Linked DNA regions of Homo sapiens. The protein of the gene in region 5 interacts with the protein of the main gene of each other region in a biochemical or structural test. Each region holds a gene or a part of one and is shown on either strand. Other genes may lie near its edges. The genes, in order: HTRA1, UBE2D1, PTEN, UBE2D2, XIAP, UBE2E1 and TCF25.

Region 1 (3,500 bases), on a different chromosome or scaffold from region 5:
AGCAAAACATGAGAGCTATTTTTGAGATACATTAAAGTGTCAAAGTGTCACTGAATATCTTCCTACTTAAGATAAGTGTGTCTCCCTTAGAACATTTTCCCTATTCGACTATATAAATCTACATTCTTGACCCTTCTGAATGTTTAAAGAACCTCGGGCTCTGAAGAGATTCTCTAAGAATATTTTGTAAGTGGAAGTTTTTGATGCATGCAAAAAATTGGCAGGATGTTTAGTGTTTAAATGCTAAGCCCGATATATAAAGGAGCGATGGCTAGGTGTGTGTGGCTGTTGCACAACCCATTAATCAATGCGTTGAAGCGTTCATTTTAAGGTGCTACAGGCTTAAGTGTGTACTCCTTTGGATTTTAGGCTTCCGTTTTCTAAACGAGAGGTGCCGGTGGCTAGTGGGTCTGGGTTTATTGTGTCGGAAGATGGACTGATCGTGACAAATGCCCACGTGGTGACCAACAAGCACCGGGTCAAAGTTGAGCTGAAGAACGGTGCCACTTACGAAGCCAAAATCAAGGATGTGGATGAGAAAGCAGACATCGCACTCATCAAAATTGACCACCAGGTAAGGGTGTTCTCGCCTGCAGAGGTGAGTTCTCAGATGCCCCGGAACACCCTTGGCAAAGGCACCAGAGCTCTCTGATTGCAGCTGATTCTCGGGGGGCACTGAAGCCAGTCTGAGCCAGTCACAGGAGGGCCTTGAGGAGATGCTGAGTATGGCCTGGGGGTGTGGGAGAGGAAGGGGCTCAGGAAAACTTCTGTAAGGAGCCAGATAAAAGTTTTTAAAATAATGTTTTAAATGTTTGTCAAAGAAAGCAATAGATTTGTAAAGAAATTAGTAGGTAAGTAGTGAAAATTGATTCTCCTTCCCATTCCCAATCCTGTGGCAACTCTTGTTACAGATTTTATTTATCCTCCACAGATACATCATGCGTTCACAATGAACATAGAATTTACTGGGTTTTAGACTGAGCCATCCTTAACTTGTCAACAGTTACTTTGAAAACAAACCAGCTCTCCCAAATTGGGGTTTTGCGGGGTTATGAGATGTGTTTCAAAAGAATGTTTCGTACTTTAAACATCTTGGAAAACTTGAATTAAAACAGAGCTAATGGATTTCTTCTTTCCAGACCTTCTCAGAGCTTTTAGTATGCTAGTGTGCACGTGGCTTGCCTACAAAAGGGTGTTGACTGAACTATTTGCCCAAATTATAATCATTTGAGTATACAGCTTTTTGTGGGGGCAGGCAGAACTGAGACATACCAAAATCAGTTTGGGAAATGCTGTATTTGAAAATGCTTTCTATTTAAATATTCTCTTTGCAATCATTTTTGCTCTGTTGATTTGCTTAGCAAAGTCTTCATGTCTGGGACAATATCCATTTCTTACTGACTCATCAAAAACCCCCACTCGACACGTCGATGAGAGAGGTTTTGTTTGCTGTGTGGCATGTTCAGTGAAAGCGTGGTTTCCAGTTTCTTCACATCCTTATAATTTTCTAGACTTCAGATGGAGGGAACAATCAGAGGAGGCTGGAATCCTGCCTCTGACCAAGGAAAAGACCAGAGGCTGAGCCAGGTGGGGTCTCTTGTCCAGCCCTCTGCTTGCCTCGCTTTACCTGGGTGTGGGCTGAGTAATTCCAGACAAGCGTGGAATTAATCTGGCTGTTTGTGCTGTTCAGTGGCACGCTGGTTACACCTCCTTCTGGAAACAACTCTGCGTGTGCTGTTTGGGTGGTAGGATTCCGGGTCTCCTTCTCCGTCTTTTTATAACATCAAGTTGCTGCCCAGCTCAGGCTCCTTTACGGCCAGTCTTCAGAAAACCACCAGCTAACACATTTACTACCCTCCTTCCCCGATGTTCCTGTAGCTTCTCTATGGCTGGGTGGCCAGGCATGGCCGAAGAGGCTCTGGGTAGATATAGGCTCTGTGCCCGGTGTGTGTAACTGGCCTTGAGTGAGGCTGCAGTTGTGTGTTATTTCTATTAGGTCACTGTGGAATTTCTAGCGACAACTAATCTTTCAAAGTGTGTTTATTGGTCACAGGATTATTGGGCCAGCCTCTGCCTTCATTCTTTTTCACCTAATCTGCATAATAGCTGTGTTATCCCCATTTTAGAGAAGAAGAAACAGGGGCTCAGAGAAGTCTAGTAACCTGTGTGAGGCCACACAGCAAACACCTCATGACCCTGCCCTCCTAAGGCAGCCCATGGCTACTGCTGGAGGGATAGAGGCCGGCCCCGTGGTTTGATGGGACAGCTTGACCTTAAACAGCCCATGGGAAGGCGGGTGCATCTGGTTTAGGAACAGGCTGCTAGAAAGGTATCCAGGATGTGGTAGTCTCACCGGAAGGAGCCAGTCAGAATAGCACAGCCTGTGGCCACGCGTGGGACCTGTTCAGCCTCATGGAGCTTTGGGAGGCAGCCAGCAGCAGGGCATGGGCTGTGTGCAGGCGAGGCGCTGGCCTGGACGCCGCCCCCACTGCGTAACTTCGTGTTTGGAATGCGTGGGCACATACCGTGCGGCTGCTTCTGGCCGGGGGATATTCTTTTCCAATTTTGAGCCAAGGTGGAGACTGTCTCCTCGTGCCATCCCTGGCATGTCCTGGCAAGACGTGAACGATCTCAATAGACGAGCTTTGCAGAGTGTGTCTGACCTGACTCCTGCTGTCTTGGGAGTTTAGCTCTTCAGCCAGCAGCATGCTGTTTGACATGTGTTTCAAGCCCCCCAAGAAAGGGTGCTTGAAATTTAAAATTGAACTGATGTGGCTTTTCAAAATGGAATTGGAAATGAAAGGATATTAAATTGCAGACACCCACACAAAAGACTGGTTTCCACTGACTAAACTGCTTTTTTTTGCTGATAGTAGTTGAAAGTAGGGAGAGTAACAGCATCTCTTCCAGCTTTTTCTCTTTTGTTCCCTTGTTTTGATGATGGGTTATTTCGGGGGAAGCTCTGGCTGGCCTTGCTTTGTGTCATCTTAGGGATAACAAAGAGGATGAAAGAGATCAGGAAAACCGAGAAGGCAGAACAGAACCAGCAGAAACTGTGCTTGAGGAATGAAAATCACCTACACGGCTCCTTGTCATATGAGACTGTGGCCCAGCCTCCTGCAAAGCCATTTAAGAGTAACCCAGTGAAGCTGGTGAGACTGCCTGCCGCGTCCGTGGGCCCAGTGACTAACTCGGTGGCTTATCATCTGGGCCCAGCTCCTCCCCTGGCATCCTGATTTCACTTGGAGGGGCCCCCGTTGTCCTTCATAAACATGTTTATTTCATTTTATTTTTATGTTTTGAGACAGAGTTTTACTGTTGCCCAGGCTGGAGTGCAGTGGCGCCATCTCCGCTCACTGCAACCTCCACCTCCAGGACTCAAGTGATTCTCCTGCCTCAGCCTCCTGAGTGGCTGGGACTACAGGCGTGCACCACCATGCCTGGCTACTTTTTGTATTTTTAGTAGAGACCGGGTTTTGCCATGTTGGCCAGGCTGGTCT
Region 2 (3,500 bases), on a different chromosome or scaffold from region 5:
GTATAAAAAAATGAGGTAACCTATGACAGTTAAAAAGTTCTGAGATTTCTTCTCTGTGGAAATAAATAGCCTAGAACTAAATAAAGCTGTTTATGCCTATTTTAAGAAGCCAGGCACATATGAAAACCAAACCTAGCAGGATGTGGGATTGCCTCCAGGAAAGCAAAATAGCGTCCTTACTCGCTTTAGTTCCCTGAAATACGCATAGAAAACATATGGGCCCTTTATTTTCATTTAATGAGTGCTACTAATAGAAATGATAAACCTAATATTTAGCCATAAAACTGAGTTAATGGTCATCTACTAATGTAATAGTCCCTGCCTTTTTAATAGTGAATAAACTGATTACATTGAATTAACAACAGGAATTGAGATACTTATCCTCTCTCCTCTCCTGTGAAATGCTGGAATAAATGATACTAGAATATATAATATGACCATATTTGCAGTTTGGGAATTGGAGGGGTAGGTCCTCAGGCCACCTTAGCACATGTGTCTGAAGGCAGGACAGGTTTTATTTCTGGCCCATCTTGGTCTTGATGGTCTCTGAGAAGCTAAGGTTTTTCTGTGCTTAATTTGGTTCTGAGATGAATCTGTGAAGGTTCAGTTTCACACATTAGACAATAACAGGCTGTTGTGTTCCAGGATTGTCCTTAGTATGGGGAGGAAGCTGCTATCTAGAAGCATACAGTCTAGTGCTGTCCATTCCACCATCATGCTCTGCATCCTCTTGTCTTACCTCTTTCTGGATGTATTTCCCACTGTCCTCTATTCATATGGTCCCGTTTGTATGGCTCATCTCTTTTAGTGACACCACAGTTCTTATTTAGATTCCTGGGTTTTTTTTCAGACTTAAGAAACTTCTCCAGTGGGGGTGAGCTGAGGAGTTGGTTCCTTCACCTTAAGCTTCCTCAGATAATAATCTGATTGTTCTCATTCTAGGTGGCCACCCTCCTTATGCGAGCAGAGTTTGGGAGTAGTATGGTTGGATTGTCTAGAGAAAACCAAGTGGACCTAACAAATGGTCTGGGTTCATTTTTCTTCTCTTCTCTTAAACCAGGAAATCTCTGGCTTGTGTTTTTGCTTCTCCCAAATTTTGCTGTATTTTGTTTTCACTTAAATTTAAAGATATTTTCTAGTTTTCCTTTTTATCTCTTCTTTGACCCTTGGATTATTTAGAAATACGTTATTTATTTGCCATATGTTTGGAGATTTTACAGATAGCTTTCTGTTGTTGATTTCTAATTCCATTATGGTCAGAGAACAAATTCTATTATTATTTGACTCCTTTTAAATTGTGGGTACTTGTTTTTTTTGGTTTTTTTTTTGTTTTTTTTTTTTTGAGATGAAGTTTGCTCTTGTCGCCCAGGCTGGAGTACAGTGGCGCGATCTCGGCTCACTGCAACCTCTGCTTCCTGGGTTCAAGCAATTCTCCTGCCTCAGTCTCCCAAGTAGCTGGGATTACAGGCGCCCACCACCACACCCAGCTAATTTTTTGTATTTTTAGTAGAGACAAGGTTTCACCATGTTGGTCAGGCTGGTCTTAAACTTCTGACCTCAGGTGATCCACCTGCCTTAGCCTCCCAAGTGGGGACTTGTTTTATGACCCAGCCTTTTCAGGTGCTCAACAGCACTTTTGAATGAATGATGGTTAATAGTTTGTAGACTTCATTTTGGTATTTTCCAGTTGGTATCTATTGACTGTAGGTTATTTCTAAGAAATGGATGCCAAACTAAGGTGTACACCTTCCCAGTATCTTTTTTTTTCTCTTTTATGAGTTTCCAAACAGTTTAGTGAATAATAAACATCCACTTTTTAAAATGGAATAGAAAATATTAGTGCTTTGCATATAGTAAGGGTGTTGTTTCATGAAATTTGTTTTAGTGTGTGTGTGTGTACTAGGTTGTAATGTAAAATCTTTTTCATATTATAAATTGCTGTAAGGAAAGCTGGAAAATCACTGTTCCATAACATAAGATCCTTAGGTAAAATTAATGTTAAAAATACATGCCATACAACCATACATATACATGTATACATATATAGGGAGAGCAAATGAATACATATACACATACACAGAGACACACAAATATATTGATACACATATACACATAATGTAAACTGTTCTAGCCTTGGAAACGTTTGCATTTGATACAGACCGTATGCATTGTTTTCTTCTACAAGTAGCAGCATTTTAGTGACTGATGTACAACCATAATATTCAAGAATAATACTGGATGATACTAACAGAGAGTAGAGAATTTATTATGAAACACTCAAGTGCCCACTATATGCCAGTTATTAGGTATAGAGCTGTAAGAAGCAATATTTAATAACAAATATTTGGTAGGTATTGGTAGGCATGTTCATGTTTTACACACGTTTTAATAAATAGGCAGCTAGGTTTTCTCTCTTTTTTCTTCCATCTTTTTTTGGTTACTGTAAAGTAAATAGTAAGTTTTGATAATGGAGCACTCAAAATGCTCCATTTGCATATTTTATGTGAAAATTCTATTTATTTAAGTTGTGTATAATTTCCTGTAAAGTTTTTCTTGACTCTCAGAGTGTCTTTAAACACAACGCTCCTGAAAGCTTATGAAATAGTATTCGTTTCTAACCTTTTATATGATATAAGCTCCTGAGAAAAGATAAGAATTCCTTCTCATTCCTTCACTTATCACACTTTTGTTTCTCTGGAGCATAGCTAAAAATGTGCAAATGGCCTTAATACAGTACTGGAGCATTGTTTGCTTCAGTGTTGGTTGAAAATAATGTGCTCTAGCTGTTACAGTGTTGAGGTGAGTATTGAATTGGGGTGGGAAGAGTGCTGGAGTAGAAGTCAGATGGTCTGTCCCTTTGTCCTAGTTTGGCTTTGTGACCTTGGCCAGGAGACTCAGTCTTTATACTCCTCACTTGGAAACTTAATGGATTGAACTTGATACTTTCTGTCATCTCTTCTGAATCATAATTTTAGGCAAACCTAAATAATGTATTTGCTGTTTTTTTTTTTGCAGCAAACAACAGTGATCACAAAAACAAACACTGAGCTTTGGCACTGTGCTATGGAGCTATATTAGACTTGACTTAAAATTCCATTTACTTTGAAATATCAGATTTGAAATAAATGTTGACATCTCTTAATGTATAAGGTCAATAAATCTTATTCTCTAACTAAAGAGCAATTATTTATGATGCAAATAAAATGTATTTCTATTATTGCACTGGTAACATAACGTGGTTCTCTAATTCCATTTAGCTTTTCTCTATTTGTTAGCTTTTGTACTTAAGATTGTTTTATCCACATATTTAGACAACTGCCATACACAGCTGCACAGCTGCCTTATAGGTAATAGTTTTTTTGTTTTTTTTTTTTTTAATGACAAAGTCTGGCTCTGTCACCCAGGCTGGACTGCAGTGGCATGATCTCAGCTCACTGCAACCTCCACCTCCTGCGTTTAGGGGATTCTCATGTCTCAGCCCCCTGAGTAGCTGGGTCTAC
Region 3 (3,500 bases), on a different chromosome or scaffold from region 5:
TGATTTTAAATTATCAGGGTTATTAAGACCTTAAAATTATTTTACCAGGTTTTTACATGTGAGCTGTGACATGACTGGCATTTTCTTTGATTTCAGCGTATGTTGGTCTCTACACATGAAATTTGTGTGACTTAAAACTTTCTCTAAAACTGTACTTTTAGTTATGATATGCATAGAAAGCAGTATCAAATATTGCGTCAAATGACTAATAACACTTAATTTCTAGAGTTGTGGTTTTATTGAGCCAAAAGTTGATATGAAAAAAAGTCAGTAAGGAAAGTCAGTGAAGTGCTTGCTTTTTTGATAATTGCACTCCCAATAATTTTGATATTCCAACGTACTTGGTTTGCTTGTTTTCACGTTAATGTTTTCTGTTTATTGGAGTGGGAAGGCATTAAAATTGTCATTGAAGACTTTGTCTTTGACATGTTGTAGTATTTATTTCAGTAACTAACCTGTGAAAAGTTAAATTCCTTTATGAAAGTAGTGATTGGAGTATTTTTATCTGATAAAGAAAGATTAATAATGAAGCCATTTCTCCGAGGAAAATTGAGGACAATAATTCAGTTTTAAAATATTATCGCAAAATTAAATTATTCTAAAAATTTGTTAGTAGGGTTATATGCTTAATATTAGTCTGAAATATAGTGCTGAATTTGAGACTATAGAAAAATTAAGTGTATTTAGGGTATGTGGAAACGTTAGGCTTCTGTTGTATTTTTATTGTTTGGTAGATTTGCCTCTTTTCAAATAAATGTTCACAGGGAATACTTTTAACTTGTAGAGAGTACAGTGACTATTGAAGTTACCTAAATTACCTCAAGGTAAGTGATTACTGAAATTAATCATGAGGGTTTTAAAAAGTATTCTATTCACAACATTTATTTTACATTGTTTTGTATCTGCTAAGTTATATTTCCTGAAAAACATGACTGGACCACCTAATTGCTGTATGATAACTTACAAACTTCATTTTTCATAGTGCTTATTCAAGTGTAAAGCACAACTGAAAGGAGTAATGTACAGTTTATATGAGGAAAAAGGAATTTTATTGCTGCCAGTGTAAAAGTTTGCACAGCAGTATAGTCATCAATGCAGATTTACATTGCTTATAATATACTAAGTAAATACTAAATGATTAAAGATAATAAAATATGGTGAGGTATAACCACCTTCATTTTAAACTTAGTTTTAGAAGATAGTAAAGAAAGATTCCTTTATTACCTTTTTAGAATTTTATTTTTAATAACATGGGAAAGGCAACTGGTGATATTTTAATTTTTGTATGGAACAGTGCATCTGCTTTCTCATAGCCACATAAAATACATAAACTTCTTAGTGTTATGAAATGGCTTACTTTTTGGAAGTGAAGAAGTCTTCAATTCTTATTTTCTAATGTTATTTTGAAATTTGCCTCCATTTGCTGTTTGTTCATTTGGTGATAGCGCAACACTTAAAAAAATATTTTAAGCCGCTTCTGAAGTAATCACTTCAGTGACTTTTAATGGAGGAGTATTTGTTATGGGAAATTCACTTCACAAAGTTTTAACATTAATTCACTTGAAGTAAACGTGCTATTTTTAAATTTTCATCTCAATCTTTTAAGTAAGACGAAAGCTTAGGAAATCACTTTTATTATTGATATTGTGTGTGACTTCAGAGTTTGTAAAGAGAATTGTAGAAGTGTTGCATGCATATGACAATTTTCTGCTTAATTGAAATGTGAGGCCTCTGCCATACTACAAGGATTTAGCTTCCAGAAAATGTAATATTAACATAGCTTAAGAAATGTATTTTTTTTTTTCTGTAGAAACCGTTGGGTTAAACAAACAGTTCAGAAGTTTTATTACATGGAACCCATTAGTTCTTAATCTTGTTACCTTTTTCTTCATTTTTTCTGTTAAACTTGATTTTCACAGTCAGCATTGAAGAATTCATCTTGTGGCCTGAATTCATTAAGAAAAGATGTTAGGATTTGTTCTGAAGATAGTGACTTAGGAAATTTGTGAGACTGGGGTCAGTCAGTTCTGTTTTACAATTGCTTTCTATTTGGTAGCTTTGAAATTAATTTAGTTGCTTATCAGAGAGAATAATGTTGAGGTTAGACTAACCTTAAATTGGTAAGGCTTTGCTGAGCAAACTGATAACTGTAAGTCTTTTATAGGGTGCATTACTGCCACATATACGTTCTTCCATAGGTGGTTAAAAGTATATTGGTCTGTGTTTGGTGATTCTCTTTGTACATATTGAGTATATGCATTCACTAATGTAAAATAATTTGCCAAGAAAGGTGAAATTAGTATATTGTACTTGACTATTCACCTTTCCCTTAGTTTTTTGAATTTTTTTCATTGGTTGCAGAGGAAGTATTAGCAATTTAATTCTTTTAAAATAATTTGCACTGGAATAAATAAGTATCGGCAAATATAAGAAGAGTAACATAATTTAAGGGTGAATTAATTTTATTTGGGAAGTTTTAGTTCTGTATAGTTAAGGCAGATTCTTCATTTGCAACAGTTGACATTGGGACATGTGTGAACATCTTCAAGGTATTAGGACATCTTCAAGGCATTACTTTTTGGCAGTGTTGAGAATTTTTTTTTTTTTTTTTTTTTTTTTGAGATGGAATCTCGCTCTATCGCCCAGTCTGGGGTGCAGTGGCAGGATCTCGGCTCACTGGAACCTCTGCCTCCCAGGTTCAGGCGATTCTCCTGCCTGAACCTCCCAAGCAGCTGGGATTATAGGTGCATGCCACCACGCCCAGATAGTTTTTGTACTTTTAGTAGAGATGGGGTTTTACCACCTTGGCCAGGCTGGTCTCAAACTCCAGACCTCAAGTGATCCGCCTGCCTCGGCCTCCCAAAATGCTGGGATTACAGGCGTGAGCCACTGCGCCTGGCCAGTGTTGAGAATATTGAGAGATGGATATTGTAGCTGTACCTGCCATCAAAAGAATTTTCTTGACCTCCACATAGTGTGAAAAAGAAGACTGTTTACACATTATATTTTAAGTAATTATACACATAATTATTATCAGTACTCACCACTTCAAATATGAACAGTGAATCTAACCAGTGTTTGATTTCTCTGTGTGTGTATGTGTATACAAAGTTAGCAAACCTTTTATCTTAATATTTATTAAAAAACGAATTTTTGTTTCTTTAAAGAAAAGACTACCTTAGAGAATATTGTTCTATAGTTTTTAAATATGGTCAGATCTATTTTAAATTATGTTAAAATTTTGAGTATTACGTTTATCTATACTTTTAAGCATATATACATTGTTTCATTTTAGATTTTAGGGAGGCAGTGTGGGCTCTGGAGCCAGACTGCTTGTTTTGTAATCCTGGATCTTCCATTTAGTAGCTGGATGACTTTGAGTAGGTTATTTAGATTTTCTCAATCTATTTTATCTGTAAAATGGGGATGATAATGGAACCTACCGCATACGTTTATCTTGAATAGTAAGTGAGATAATAATAAGTAATTTCATTTAGCAT
Region 4 (3,500 bases), on a different chromosome or scaffold from region 5:
CAGTGACAACTTCCCTTAGGTTGCTCAGATCATAGTATGAATGGTAAGTGTGCTAAGTAGTAGCTTAATTATAAGTAAAAACTCTGGCTTTTGATCTCTCATGATGCACTTAGTAGCATGAGAACATGGAACAAGCATCATTTTCTGCATTTGGAAGATATTTATTTATTGAACAAGTTTATAACTTATTAGAAGTATCCCTGGAGCTTGTAATCAACCTTGGGCTTTCAGCTAATATTTTCTTCTTAAATTTTACTCCTTTTTTCTCTTTTTTCCTCTTTAACTTATCCTTTACATTAGGAGAGATGTTTTTCTTTCTTTAATGAGGGCCAGTAATGTACAGACCTACACAAGAGTTTTTAGAAATTTTTTCTCCTTGTTAAAACCAGTCTTTCTTAATTTGAGTATTATCTACCTTGACTTTACTGTTTTGTCCCCCGTATACCAGCATTATAAAAGGAGTCATGCCTGTAATTCCAGCTTTGGGAGGCTGAGGTGGGTGGATCATCTGAGGTCAGGAGTTTGAGACCTGGCCAAACGTGGCAAAACCTTGTCTCTACTAAAAATACAAAAATTAGCCAGGTGTGGTGGCACTTGCCTGTAGTCCCAGCTACTTGGGAGGCTGAGGCAGGAGAATTGCTTGAACCCGGGAGGCGGGGGTTGCAATGAGCCGAAATTGCGCCAGCGCACTCCAGCCTGGGCGATAGAGTGAGACTCTGTCTCAAAAAAAAAAAAAAAAAAAAGTGTATTATATGTAATTGTTTTGAAGAAATGATTTACCCTGTGAGGTAAAGAAATAACTGTTTAAAAGTAGAACTGTAAGCCTTGTCAAGAAGTTTGTCTACCTGACATGAAGTTTCAAGAAGTTTTAGCCCAAATACTTTCGGTTTTTTTTGTTTTTGTTTTTGAGAGAGTCTTGCAGTGGCGCAGTCATGGCTCATTGCAGCCTCCACTTCTCAGGCTCAAGCAGTCCTCTCACCTCAGCTTCTGGAAGTGTTGGGATTACAGGTGTGAGCCACCACACCTGGCTCTAAATATTTTTCATTGAGCACCTTATCAGTGTTCTAGGCCATTCTAGTCATTTTTCTTGTTTCTTTAGACTGTTAATTTATGTTCCTCATCTTGCTCATACTCATTATCATATTATTTATAAATGAATTTGGATTAGAAGGGGAATGATATGTTACTATGGCGTAGATACAATGTAGATATTGTTACATGGTGACTTTTTTCTTGTTATTTTTCAGTGTTCCATTGGCAAGCTACAATAATGGGGCCAGTAAGTATTCAGATTAATTTCAGAATAAACAGTTTATGTAATTTACTCATTTTAATCCCACTTTTCTTGTTATCAACAGAATGACAGTCCCTATCAGGGTGGAGTATTTTTCTTGACAATTCATTTCCCAACAGATTACCCCTTCAAACCACCTAAGGTAATTAATTGGAATGTGGCAGTTTTTAATGTACTTTCTATAATACTAATAAACTAGTTTACAGAAAGTTTCCTTTCTTTCTGTAGGTTGCATTTACAACAAGAATTTATCATCCAAATATTAACAGTAATGGCAGCATTTGTCTTGATATTCTACGATCACAGTGGTCTCCAGCACTAACTATTTCAAAAGGTAACAGTGGGTATTTGATATCAAGATAAAGCAACCGTGTCTTTTGTCTTTTTAGAGTTATTTATTTTTGAAAAGATTACTTATGTTTCTTTTAAGAAGAGATAGCAATTCTTCTTAATCTGAAATGGACCTTGAGAACTGAAAACGAGTTGGATTTTTCAAGCAAAAGTATTCCTTGGTGTAGTGACTAGTCTGTCAGTTGTGCTACTCTAGCATAGGTTAGAAGATGAACACTGGGCCTGGTGCCGTGGCTCATGCCTGTAATCTCAGCACTTTGGGAGGCCGAGGCGGGCAGATCACAAGGTCAGCAGATCGAGACCATCCTGGCTAACATGGTGAAACCCCGTCTCTACTAAAAATACAAAAAAATTAGCTGGGCATGGTGGCAGGTGCCTGTAGTCCCAGCTACTCGGGAGGCTGAGGCAGGAGAATGGTGTGAACCCGGGAGGCAGAGGTTTCAGTGAGCAGAGATTGTGCCACTGCACTCCAGCCTGGGCAACAGAGCGAGACTCTGTCTCAAAAAAAAAAAAGAAGATGGACACTGGTATGAATGTTTTTTTAGAGCATAAAGTAGAGCACAATTAACATCTCTTCCAACCTTGAGATTCATGAATGGAAAAAGATAGATACTATTGCAGAATAGGAAATAGACCAGCCCTTTAGACAAATGCCTATGCTGTAAACATAGACGTTAGGTTCTTGAAGAACAAAATATAGGTAAATATTTTACCAGCTCTTGTCTTTAGGTTTCTGTATCAATGAACTGAGTGATGTAGTTGTTGTCTTAATGTGTTGATTTGAAATTGTACAACCCTTCAACATTATTCCCAGATGAAATCACAGTTGCGTTACAATAATCTAGATTTTTTTTTTTTTTTTTTTTTTTTGAGATGGAGTCTCACTCTGTCGCCCAGGCTAGACTGCAGTGGTGCAATCTTGGCTCATTGAAACCTCCACCTCCCGGGTTCAAGCAATTCTCCTGCCTCAGCCTCCCTTGTAGCTGGGATTACAGGCACCCGCCACCACGCCTAGCTAATTTTTGTATTTTTAGTAGAGACTGGGTTTCGCCATGTTGGCCAGGCTGGTCTCGAACGCCTGACCTTATGATCCACCTGCCTCGGCCTCCCAAAGCGCTGGGATTACAGGCATGAGCCACCGTGCCCAGCCAAATAATCTAGAATTTATAAAGGAAAACAAAAACAAGTATTTATGGCCTGGCACGGTGGCTCACGCCTGTAATCCCAGCACTTTGGGAGGCCGAGGCAGGAGAATCGCTTGAACCCAGGAGGCGGAGGTTGCAGTGAGCTGAGATTGCGCCACTGCACTCCAGCCTGGCCAGCCTGGGGGACAGAGCGAGACTCCGTCTCAAAAACAAGAATATTTATCAGATCTCACTGCTGTACTCTGAAAGGTGATAAAAGAGTTCACTGGATGTACTTTTGTGAAAATGAAATCAGTTGTTTAAGAGAAAAATCAAATATGGTAATGGATTAATATGTTTAAAATATGAAGTACAAAAATCAGAAAAAAATTCAGATCCCAATAGATGAATGGACACAGGGGAACCAAAGAATAAATAAATGAATGTTACGTTCCTATTTTTTACCTTTTTAATTAACAAAGATATTTTTAAAAGAAGACAAAACACTAATGAGGTACATTGAAATGAACACTCATATTCTTCAAGTAGAGGTATAGATTTGTAGAGCCCAGTCTGCCAGTATGTGTTAAGAGACTTAATCATCCATGCCCATTCACCCAATAATTCTAGTTTCATTTATTTATACTAAGAAAACAATCCCAAATGCTGAAAAAACTTTGTATACAAGTACATTTGTGACATTGTGATTTAGTTCTGAAAATTGGAGGTTA
Region 5 (3,500 bases):
TGACACTAAACAAACCTTCAAGATTACTATATGATGGTACATAAATAAAATCTTTCGAAATAACCAATATTTTATAGGCATTATTCAATCTTAAAATAAATGGGTCAAATATATAATGGTATAACTTTTTAAAATATCTTTAGAAGCAATCACTCCAATGGCCCTTCCTGAAATGTCTACCACAGTCCATTTGAAAGTACTCATATGGCCGGCGCAGTGGCTCATGCCTGTAATCCCAGCACTTTGGGAGGCCAAGGCGGGCGGATCACAAGGTCAGGAGTTCGAGACCAGCCTGGCCATGGTGAAACCCTGTCTCTACTAAAAGTACAAAAATTAGCCAGGCATGGTGCATGCACCTGTAATCCCAGCACTTTGGGAGGCCGAGGCGGGTGGATCACCTGAGGTCAGGAGTTTGAGACCAGCCTGACCAACAGGGAGAGACCCTGTGTCTACTAAAAATACAAAATTAGCCGGGCGTGGTGGCACATGCCTGTAATCCCAGCTACTCAGGAGGCTGAGGCAGGAGAATCGCTTGAACCCGGGAGGTGGAGGTTGTGGTGAGCCTAAATCACGCCATTGCACTCCAGCCTGGATAACAAGAGCGAAACTCTGTCTCAAAAACAAACAAACAAAGCTATTGTGAAGCTTAGAGAAAATGCATGAAGTATATGTATTGAGCACTTATAGTAAGTGCTCAATAAATGATGGTTAATATTACTATTAGACCCATTTTGCTATTGGGGATGTCTACCATCTTTTGCAAGTTATCTACTTCCTAAAAACAATTACATGAAGAGAAGCATGACTCATAATATGGTAGTCTTTTTCACATAAATTCAGTAGTTACATTACAGGTTCAACATAAGAGTTCACGGAATAATACAGATATATATATAATCATGCCAAGTTATACCTAAATATTTACCAGTTCAGGGGGCTAAGGGCATCTATTTACTTTTTATGAGCCCTGGCATACTTGGGAAGCTATTTATTGGTTTTATAATAAAGTTTACCTAAAGCATAAAATCCAGCTCTTGCAAGCTGCTCCTTGTTAACTGAGTATATCCATGTCCCAAAAGTAAAGATCCGTGCTTCATAATCTGCCATGGATGGATTTCTTGGAAGATTTGTTGAATTTGGGAAATTCCTATCAGAACTCACAGCATCAGATTCACTTCGAATATTAAGATTCCGGCCCAAAACAAAGAAGCAATTAGGAAAGTGTCGCCTGTGTTCTGACCAGGCACGATCACAAGGTTCCCAATTTTTCAGTTTTCCACCACAACAAAAGCACTGCACTTGGTCACCAATACCTGTGTAGTAGAGTCCAGCACTTGCTAACTCTCTTGGGGTTAGGTGAGCATAGTCTGGCCAGTTCTGAAAGGACTTTAATCTAGCTTCTTCACTATACATGGCAGGGTTCCTCGGGTATATGGTGTCTGATATATCTACAACCTGCCCAGTTCTCAAAAGATAGTCTGCATGTGTCTCAGATGGCCTGTCTAAGGCAAAATGATCTCTGCTTCCCAGATAGTTTTCAACTTTGTACTGACCATTCTGGATACCAGAATTTGTAGACTGCGTGGCACTATTTTCAAGATAAAAGCCGTTGATAAATCTGCAATTTGGGGATACTTTCCTGTGTCTTCCAACTGCTGAGTCTCCATATTGCCATCTATCTACAGCTGCATGACAACTAAAGCACCGCACGGTATCTCCTTCACCAGTATAAAGAAACCCTGCTCGTGCCAGTGTTGATGCTGAAACAGGACTACCACTTGGAAAATTAGCAAAAGTTTTTAATCTATTAAACTCTTCTACAAATTCTTCTTCCTTATTGATGTCTGCAGGTACACAAGTTTTAGATCCTTCAAAACTGTTAAAAGTCATCTTCTCTTGAAAATAGGACTTGTCCACCTTTTCTAAAAAGAGAACATTATATTAGGAAATCCAAAATGTGAAACACAAGCAACAGACTTTTGTTATAGGAGCTAACAAATTATCCACTTATGACATAAAAATAACTACACGACCGCTAAGAAACATTCTAATTCTAAATACTAGAGTTCGACATTACCACATCATTCAAGTCATAAAGTAAAATCTAGCATTTTTGTTTTCTCTTTTTGAGGAAAGTAATATTTAAGCAGGCAGAATAAAACTAATAATTTTTAAATGCTTATTTTACATAAATATGTAAACTGTGATGCAGAATATATTATAATTATTAACCATGTCAAATCATTAATTAGGAAAAACATGAAAGCATAAAATATGCAGATTATTAAAATCTATGCATAATTGTTATAATGAATCATTATATATTCAAGGCATCAAAGTTGTTTTTACAAGTTAAAAAATGTTCAGAATGTTAATGAATTAATTTTTAATATCTCTTTGCTTAGCAAAATATGTTTTAATCATAATATTGGTTCCAATGTGTTCTTTAAGAGTATGAAATATTTCTGATTTTCATGCATGAATGAGAGCCCTTTTTTTGTTGTAACTGGATAATTACAGATATATATGTAACACTGCCCTCTAGAGGGTGGCTCAGGAAAAATTCTAAGTACCTGCAAACCTTAATTGCTGTTACTTTTTTTTTTTTGCCCATGACATACATGTGCCCTGCAGTTACTTTTGCTATTAACTTCCCTTGGTCAAGTAACAATCTGTTCAAATGGAAGATAAGTATTGCTGCAGTCTTATTAGAGCTGCCAAATTACAGCTGGTAATTTTAACCCAGATAAAATACTAAAAGGAACCCGTTAGGTTATGAGAAGGGTATCAATTATTAGAAAGATAATTTATCCTCCAAACCTGGACACTTCTCAAAGTGAAAAATTACACTAGTAATAATCACACTGGGACAACAGGCATAAATCAGGGTTGCCCCAGGCAAACTAGAGTATATGGTAACCCTAGTTATGAGGCAAACCTGGTTCTCCAGAATCTCCCACATTGCCTGATAACATGCTCAATATAAACTTGTCAAAGGCAAAATAAGAGAATGGTAACAATGACTCTGTCTCTATATTATGCGTGCATTAATTGATTTTTTTTTTTTTTGAGATGGAGTTTTGCTCTTGCTGCCCAGGCTGGAGTGCAATGGTGTGATACTGGTTCATGCGACCTCCGCCTCCCAGGTTCAAGCAATTATCCTGCCTCAGCCTCTCAAGTAGCTGGGATTACAGGCATGCGCCACCATGCCCGGCTAATTTTGTATTTTTTAGTAGAGACGGGGTTTCTCCAGGTTGGTCAGGCTGGTCTTGAACTCCTGACCTCAGGTGATCTGCCCGCCTCGGCCTTCCAAAATGCTGGGATTACAGGCGTGAGCCACCGCGCCCTGCCATTAATTGATTTCTTGAGAAGAATTAGCCAGCTCTTTTGCCTTTATGTTGACACAATATGCCTTAAAATTTAATCTCTTTTGGAGTAATGTTCAACACAAAGCAAGCTGGCAATGGACTTCAGTCTTTCCTGGCCATGTCAATTTATAG
Region 6 (3,500 bases), on a different chromosome or scaffold from region 5:
TGAAAAGCTAAATGAAGTATTTTGTTTAGTAACAGTGAACTTTGGAAACTAATTAGTGGATTAAATACAAAACTATTGCCGTTTTGGTTACATTCATTCTTAATGTTGATTAGGTGTGGGATGCTCTTCCGTGAAACTTTGTCCTGTTTTGTAAGGAAAGTCATTTTGAGTTTGAAATGCTCTTAAACTATAGTTTATAATTGGAACACTTAATCATTCTGGGGAATTCTTTCCTGGCTAATAATCTCTCAAGATGGTTGAGAAGTGGAAAAACCATAAGACTTAGGCCTAACTCATTATTTTGATGGTGGTGGTTCACGTGGAAGCCTGTAGCTTCCCTTGGTTGTTTGTGTGGAATCCATGTACATTCCCCAAGGTGGTTCTGTGCTGTCTAGTTATTGCTCCTGCTTGGTATTGTGTGTCTCCTATGTGTGTGTTATTAATAACATTGATTAAAACATATAATGGCTTTCTTGTGAATAAGCACAGTCAAATCTAAAATTGTAAACCATTTGAAGATTTTCATGGGATTAAGCATTTAAAAAAAAAAAACAGTGTAAGTACACTTCAGTTTCACATCGTTTTAACTGAGTTTATGTGTGAAAGATTTATGCTCCTGAGGCATGTGGAACTTTTTTATCTTTGGGAAACCCTCCCAATTACCCCTTCAAGGTGAAACGTTTGGGAATTACCTGTGGTCAGGGGATGCACCAAACTGGGTGGCTGTTGGGTGATTGGTGTTACGGAGTCAAAGCTCAAAATACTAAATTTTAAGAAAAATCTCTGATTTGAGAGAAAATACGAGGCATCTTCATTTTGCAAGAGAATGTATATTACATTGTCTTTTAACAATAAAGATGACTTTATTTTCTGAAGATATTTTCCAGTGGGGCCGTTTGAGTAATGTGAATTAAAATTTTTACTTTTGGTTGGCTAATGGTGCTGTCTTAATGTTATATAGTAGTCCCAATATTCAGCTCTCTTAAAAGAGTTCGGTTTTACGTTTTGTGCTGTTACCTTTTGGAATTTAATTATTTAGTATTTTAATGTACTTTATTGGAGATAAAGATGGATTATTTATTTATTTATTTATTTATTTTCTTTTTGAGACGGAGTCTTGCTCTGTAGCCCAGGCTGGAGTGCAGTGGCATGATTTCGGCTCATTGCAACCTCCACCTCCCGGGTCCTGGTTCAAGCAATTCTCCTGCCTCCTGAGTAGCTGGGATTATAGGCACGTGCCACCATGCCCAGCTAATTTTTGTATTTTGGGTAGAGATGGGGTTTCACCATGTTGGCCAGGCAGGTCTTGAACTCCTGACCTTGTGATCTGCCCGCCTTGGCCTCCCAAAGTGCTGGGGTTACGGGCGTGAGCCACTGCACCTGGCCTTGGGGATACTTTTTGAAGTCAGCGTCCAATGAAAATCTATGAATTAAGTGATATATTAAGTGCGTACATGTTTAAAATTACCCTCAGCATGAAAGCATGAGATTTGAATGAGTTAAATAATTGGTTTTCAATTAGTCTGTCTTATATTTTTACCCTTTGCCATACTTCCTTTCTTCAGTCAGCATTCAGTGTGTAGTTTTAAACACGTTATTAAAATATGGCACTTGGCACATAGTAACTTCTCAGTAAATACAAAAATTAGCCGGGCATGGTGATGCACTCCAGCCTGGGCGACAGAGTGAGACCCTGTCTCAAAAAAAAAAGTTGATTATTGCAAATCAGTAGAATTGCTCCTCTTGAAGGAAGGTGCACTGTTTGTGTTCACTAATTTTGGCACTTGGCAAAAATATTTGAAGTTACTGAGCATCAAAACTTATGTGAAATGCAATTGCTCAATATGTTATAATGTATGAAAACATAAAATTAAATTCTTAATGTTGTATATTATGTTGGGTGGATATTTTTTAGAACACAGTACAGATTGTGTTCAATGACCTGGTCCAAAGTCATTTTAAGTAAGTATTTTCAAACTGCTTTATGTTGCCATAGAAATCAAATTCTTAATTTTAGTATCTGTGATTTGTGTGTGTGTGTATATATATGCATACACACACACACAAAATAGTTTCCCAACTCACTCTTCATTTTGGTTAGGCTTTTATTCCCATATCATTTAGCTCTATTCTTTTAGGGAAAAAAATATGTTAACTTTGTAATGATTCCCTAAAGCGTGCCAGATCTTAGATTGTAAAATTATGCCTTTTAGATAGCTGATGAACTCTGGGCCACCAGAGTCAGTTTTGCAGCTGTTATTTATAGCCCAGGGCTCAAACTTTGCTAAATTGACTAGTTATAACTAGCCTGTAGACACGAATATCTGTAGACAGTATGTCTATACAGACTAAATGGCATATTTTGCCTAAGTCCTTTAAACTTCAGATTTTATTTAATGGATATATTTGTTTCATGAGTAAATGTCTCAGTGACTTAACCTAGAAATTCAGATGGGGTGCTATTTTAGGATAAAATGTCTGAAAAGTCATTAAACACTTCAAGCATGGGTGAGAATAATAAAAATACATTTCTTTCTTTCTCACTTTTTTTTTGAGACAGGGTCTCATTTTGTCACCCAGGCTGGAGTGCAGTGGTGCTCACTGCAGCCTTGACCTCCTGGGCTTAAGCTGTCCTCCTGCTTCAGGCCCCCAAGTAGCAGGAACTACAGGCGTTCGACACTACACTCGGTTAATTTTTTGTATTTTTTTGTAGAGACCAGGTTTTACCTATTGGCCAGGCTGATCTTAAACTCCTGGCCTCAAGCCGTCCACCCACTTTGCCCTTCCAGAGTGCTGGGATTACAGGCGTGAGCCATGGTGCCTGGCCCTGATACTAGTTTTTCTGTATGTGACAGAATTTCCATTTAGCCTTCTTTTGATAGCTTTTTTTTCCCTAACACTGCCTATATTTTAAATAGTTTTAAGCCATTATATTATACAAGAATGCATGTTTTTGAAAAATTCAAATACAGAAGTTTGTGGAGTAAAAGGCAAAAGATAGTCCTGATGACCTCTTCTGATCCTGCTCCTTGCACACAGATGCTCCAAGTTAGCACTTTGTATACTTCCACGTAGTTTCTGTGAATTTACATTGTGTTTTTCTGGCATTCCAATACCTCCTCGAATTGGTGGTAATGGTAATGAGATGTCAGTTCAGAAGTCCCAGGCTGCTCATCATGGTTCACAATGGAAAGAGATCCTTTTCTTGCAACAGTGGAGTGTTACATACCTCGTCCAGGTTCAGCATGTTTTAAATGGTTGTTTGGGTATAAGAAATAGGTTCAGCAGAAGTCATCCTTTATAAAACCCTGTATCTTATGTGCTAAAAAGTATTCTTCCTTTTAGCATCTTTCATTTATCTGATGTTACTAAATGCGTTAAGGATAGAAGTGTGACTTAAACATCTGAATGATGTTTAGTTTCACCATTGCAGTGTGTATACCTTTATGCATGTAAAGGCAGTGTTGAAAAATTGTGACAACCAGGAGACTGGGGTTTCA
Region 7 (3,500 bases), on a different chromosome or scaffold from region 5:
GGTACAATCCAATGCCCCGCACCTCCCAGCCAGTTCTGTCTCTGCACTCTAGAACACAGGCCCCACGGGGGTCGGGATGCCTGCCACCTCCTCGTGCCTGGCTTGGCACGCAGCGGGTTCCGAGATGAGCCGACCCTCTTTCAGGTTTGGTAGGGCAGGTTTGCAGGCCCTACCAGAGAATGCATGTTTCTACAAGTGTGGGGAAGGACTGGGACCTGGCCTCCACCACCAGGAAGAGCAGCCCCCACGGCTGACAGGACACACCCCTACCCCAGGCGAGACACAGCGCTCACTCACCTCCAGGGAACATGGTGAGCGCCTGCTGTATCAGGAGAGAGGCCTTCTGCCTGGCAGAGCTCTGCTCACACTCAGGGAGGTCTGTCTGCTGGCTCAGCAGGAAATACGCCAGTGGAACAGAGAAGGCAAAATTAGGGAGCTGGGACAGGTTCCGATGAGCCTACGAGGGACGAAGAAACAGAGCGTGGAGCCTTAAGTCATAAAGACAAAATATGTGAGTTTGCAGACGCTCTGACATCACCAGTGAGCCCTACCCCGAGCAGGTATATTCTGCAGGCAACGCAAGGGCCTCTTCCTAACTCAGCATAAAGATAACTTAAAACGTCCACCTGGGGGGCTTTCCGCATGCAGAAGATACAGAGGACGTGGGAGGGCCTGAGAAGTAGACTGAGCCGGAGCGAGGACACCGTGGGGAGTGAGGGTCCCACCTGCCGCCCAGGCTCCTCTCTGAAGCTGAGCAGTTGGTGCTCTCAATGTGGAAAATTTACAGACGAGAGCAGCCCACCCCCGCGCGAGTCTGTGAGAGCAGCCCACTGCCGCGCGAGTTTCCGAGAGCAGCCCGCCACGCGAGTTTCCGAGCAGTCTACCACCGTGCCAGTTTCTCTTGCCTTTCTCAGCCTATGTCACATATTGTAGACATGTGACTCACTGCATTTTTTTCTATCAAAATGGGATCACAGACTCACAGTTTTGTGACCTTAAACACCATCATCAACATTCTTCTGCAGCCCCATTTTGGGGGACTCCCTGAGGTTTCCCTGCACCTACATTTTTGTGAGCTCCAGGAATTTCTATAAACCACATTCCTGGGGGTGAGACTTCCTGGCCAACTATGCCAAATGCTTAAAAATTCAAAATAATTTACCCACTTTCATTATCCATGAACATGTGCTATGAAAAAAATTCAACACAGAAGCAGAGAAAGTCAAGAGCTGTCGCCTTCTCCCCAGCCCCAGGCCCTGCTGGAGGTTAGCGTTACAAAGCCCGTGTCCTTCCAGATAAGTGCTGCCCCATAGGAACATAATGGGAGCCCAGGTGTCAATTTAAATTTTCTTTTTTTTTTTTTGAGACGGAGTTTCACTCTGGTTGCCCAGACTGGAGTGCAATGGCGCGATCTCGGCTCACCGCAACCTCCACCTCCCAGGTTCAAGCGATTCTCCTGCCTCAGCCTCCCGAGTAGCTGGGATTACAGGCATGCACCACCACGCCCAGCTAATTTTGTATTTTTAGTAGAGACAGGGTTTCTCCATGTTGAGGCTGGTATCAAACTCCTGACCTCAGGTGATCCGCCCGCCTCGGCCTCCCAAAGTGCTGGGATTACAGGCGTGAGCCACCATGCCCGGCCCAATTTAAATTTTCTGGGAGCTGCATTAAAGACAAAACAGGTGAGATTAATACGTTATATCTAACCCAATACACCGAAATTATCATTCCAACACGTGTCTGTGTTAGAGTTACTGGGGACAGAGCTCAAGTCTCTCCTGCTGTACTCACACTCTTCCCATGGAACAGGACAGACGTGCTGGGGGTCCCTGTGTCAGCCCCACGCAACCAACCCTCCTTCTACCTCCCGGCTGCATCTTCCTGAACTGCCCATGAGGAGCTCGGGAGTTGTCGGTTTTTCATCATTACCAGCATCACAGTCCTTGCAGGCACACGTGTGCATGTGTACACACGTTTGAGCATGTGTACACACGTATGAGGATTCTGACATAAGGCTGCTGTACTGTCCCTAGGAAAACCACATTCCACTCCGTAGAGGCGGCAAGGGAGACAAACAAGGCAGGAGGACGTGGTTCTGCCCTCAGACGATTATCGTTTCATCCCCAAACGTCCCCTGAGCGCACAGATACTGAACCAAGAAAACAGAAGGAGAAGCAGGTGTCCGTCCCTCCACGGGGCCTCACCAGGCTCGCACCCACCTCCCACTCCTGGAAGAGGCGGATCAGGTACTCGTAGTTCCGGGCCCGCAAGGCCAGGTGGTCGATGAGCAGCAGCATGCAGAGGGGGTCCTCATCCGGCTCGAGACTTCCGGAGGCAGCACAGAGAGCAGAGCAAAGGGGAACAGGGGCATCGTCAGGCTGAGAGTGGGCCTGCAGCCAGGACAGGGAGCGTGGACGGGCTTGGCCCTGAGCAGACACTCACCTCAGGATGAGCTTGCAGTACTCCAGCGCCGTGCGCGGGCAGCCTCGCTTCTCCAGGAAGCTCATCTGCTTGTAGAGGGCCAGGTAGAAGCTCCTAGATCCAAAATAGTTCCACATGAATTACAACGACACAAAGGAGAATGCTCTCTGCTCAGCGCCCCGGCCAGCACCCACTCCACCCCGCCCTCTGCTCAGCGTCCTGGCCAGTACCACCCATTCCACCCCACACACTGCTCAGCGCCCCAGTCAACACCCGCTCCACCCCACACACTGCTCAGCGCCCCAGTCAACACCCGCTCCACCCCACACACTGCTCAGCGCCCCAGTCAGCACCCGCTCCACCCCACACACTGCTTAGCGCCCCGGTCAGCACCCGCTCCACCCCCATTCTGCTCTCTGGGTTCTGCTGGCATTTTCTACGTGCCCAGCACACAGAGATCCATGTCTGGAGAGGAGGTGTGCGCTCTCCTTGTCCTTTACAGAGTTATACACGAATTTGCATACTGAAAATCAAACTTCTTTGAAATCTTTTTTTTTTTTTTGAGACGGAGTCTCGCTCTGTCACCCAGGCTGGAGTGCAGTGGCGCTATCTCGGCTCGGCTCATTGCAAGCTCCGCCTCCTGGGTTCATGCCATTCTCCTGCCTCAGCCTCTCCAAGTAGCTGAGACTACAGGCACCCGCCACCACACCCAGCTGATTTTTTGTATTTTTAGTAGAGACGGGGTTTCACCGTGGTCTCGATCTCCTGATCTTGTGATCCACCTGCCTCGGTCTCCCAAAGTGCTGAGATTACAAGCGTGAGCCACCACGCCCCGCTGAAATCTTTATCTTGTTTTTTTGTTTATTATTTATCATTTACAGGAAGAGAGTTAAAATCTCTTGTTACAATTACGATCTTAATTTATCCTCCAATCTCAACAGTGGCTAACAGCACTCAGGCTGGATACATGGAGCCCTGTGACTTTCGGATGCTGGTGGGCTGCTACTTCCATCAACAGCCCACTGTCTCTTTCGCGTCGGGAAATATTAATATTTTATAATCTACTTCAAAGAACTAAG

Evidence for each region.
Region 1: the proteins of XIAP (region 5) and HTRA1 form a complex in vitro, tested with the Homo sapiens proteins (2 studies listed by BioGRID and IntAct, with this or other methods).
Region 2: the proteins of XIAP (region 5) and UBE2D1 form a complex in vitro, tested with the Homo sapiens proteins (8 studies listed by BioGRID and IntAct).
Region 3: of the proteins of XIAP (region 5) and PTEN, one has a biochemical effect on the other in vitro, tested with the Homo sapiens proteins (2 studies listed by BioGRID).
Region 4: the proteins of XIAP (region 5) and UBE2D2 form a complex in vitro, tested with the Homo sapiens proteins (6 studies listed by BioGRID).
Region 6: the proteins of XIAP (region 5) and UBE2E1 form a complex in vitro, tested with the Homo sapiens proteins (one study listed by BioGRID).
Region 7: the proteins of XIAP (region 5) and TCF25 form a complex in vitro, tested with the Homo sapiens proteins (one study listed by BioGRID).

The regions. Positions count from the first base shown.
Region 1 is NC_000010.11:122,489,053-122,492,552, forward strand, and holds part of HTRA1 (serine protease HTRA1 precursor), read left to right. Parts: intron 1-369; coding exon 370-574; intron 575-3,500. UniProt on the Homo sapiens protein: Serine protease with a variety of targets, including extracellular matrix proteins such as fibronectin. HTRA1-generated fibronectin fragments further induce synovial cells to up-regulate MMP1 and MMP3 production.
Region 2 is NC_000010.11:58,341,506-58,345,005, forward strand, and holds part of UBE2D1 (ubiquitin-conjugating enzyme E2 D1), read left to right. Parts: intron 1-3,500.
Region 3 is NC_000010.11:87,866,625-87,870,124, forward strand, and holds part of PTEN (phosphatidylinositol 3,4,5-trisphosphate 3-phosphatase and dual-specificity protein phosphatase PTEN), read left to right. Parts: intron 1-3,500. UniProt on the Homo sapiens protein: Dual-specificity protein phosphatase, dephosphorylating tyrosine-, serine- and threonine-phosphorylated proteins.
Region 4 is NC_000005.10:139,613,339-139,616,838, forward strand, and holds part of UBE2D2 (ubiquitin-conjugating enzyme E2 D2), read left to right. Parts: intron 1-1,247; coding exon 1,248-1,279; intron 1,280-1,358; coding exon 1,359-1,436; intron 1,437-1,522; coding exon 1,523-1,628; intron 1,629-3,500.
Region 5 is NC_000023.11:123,884,053-123,887,552, reverse strand, and holds part of XIAP (E3 ubiquitin-protein ligase XIAP), read right to left. Parts: intron 1,923-3,500; 5' UTR 1,891-1,922; coding exon 1,014-1,890; intron 1-1,013.
Region 6 is NC_000003.12:23,812,455-23,815,954, forward strand, and holds part of UBE2E1 (ubiquitin-conjugating enzyme E2 E1), read left to right. Parts: intron 1-3,500. UniProt on the Homo sapiens protein: Accepts ubiquitin from the E1 complex and catalyzes its covalent attachment to other proteins. Catalyzes the covalent attachment of ISG15 to other proteins. Mediates the selective degradation of short-lived and abnormal proteins.
Region 7 is NC_000016.10:89,897,592-89,901,091, reverse strand, and holds part of TCF25 (ribosome quality control complex subunit TCF25), read right to left. Parts: intron 2,536-3,500; coding exon 2,443-2,535; intron 2,326-2,442; coding exon 2,220-2,325; intron 458-2,219; coding exon 298-457; intron 1-297. UniProt on the Homo sapiens protein: Component of the ribosome quality control complex (RQC), a ribosome-associated complex that mediates ubiquitination and extraction of incompletely synthesized nascent chains for proteasomal degradation.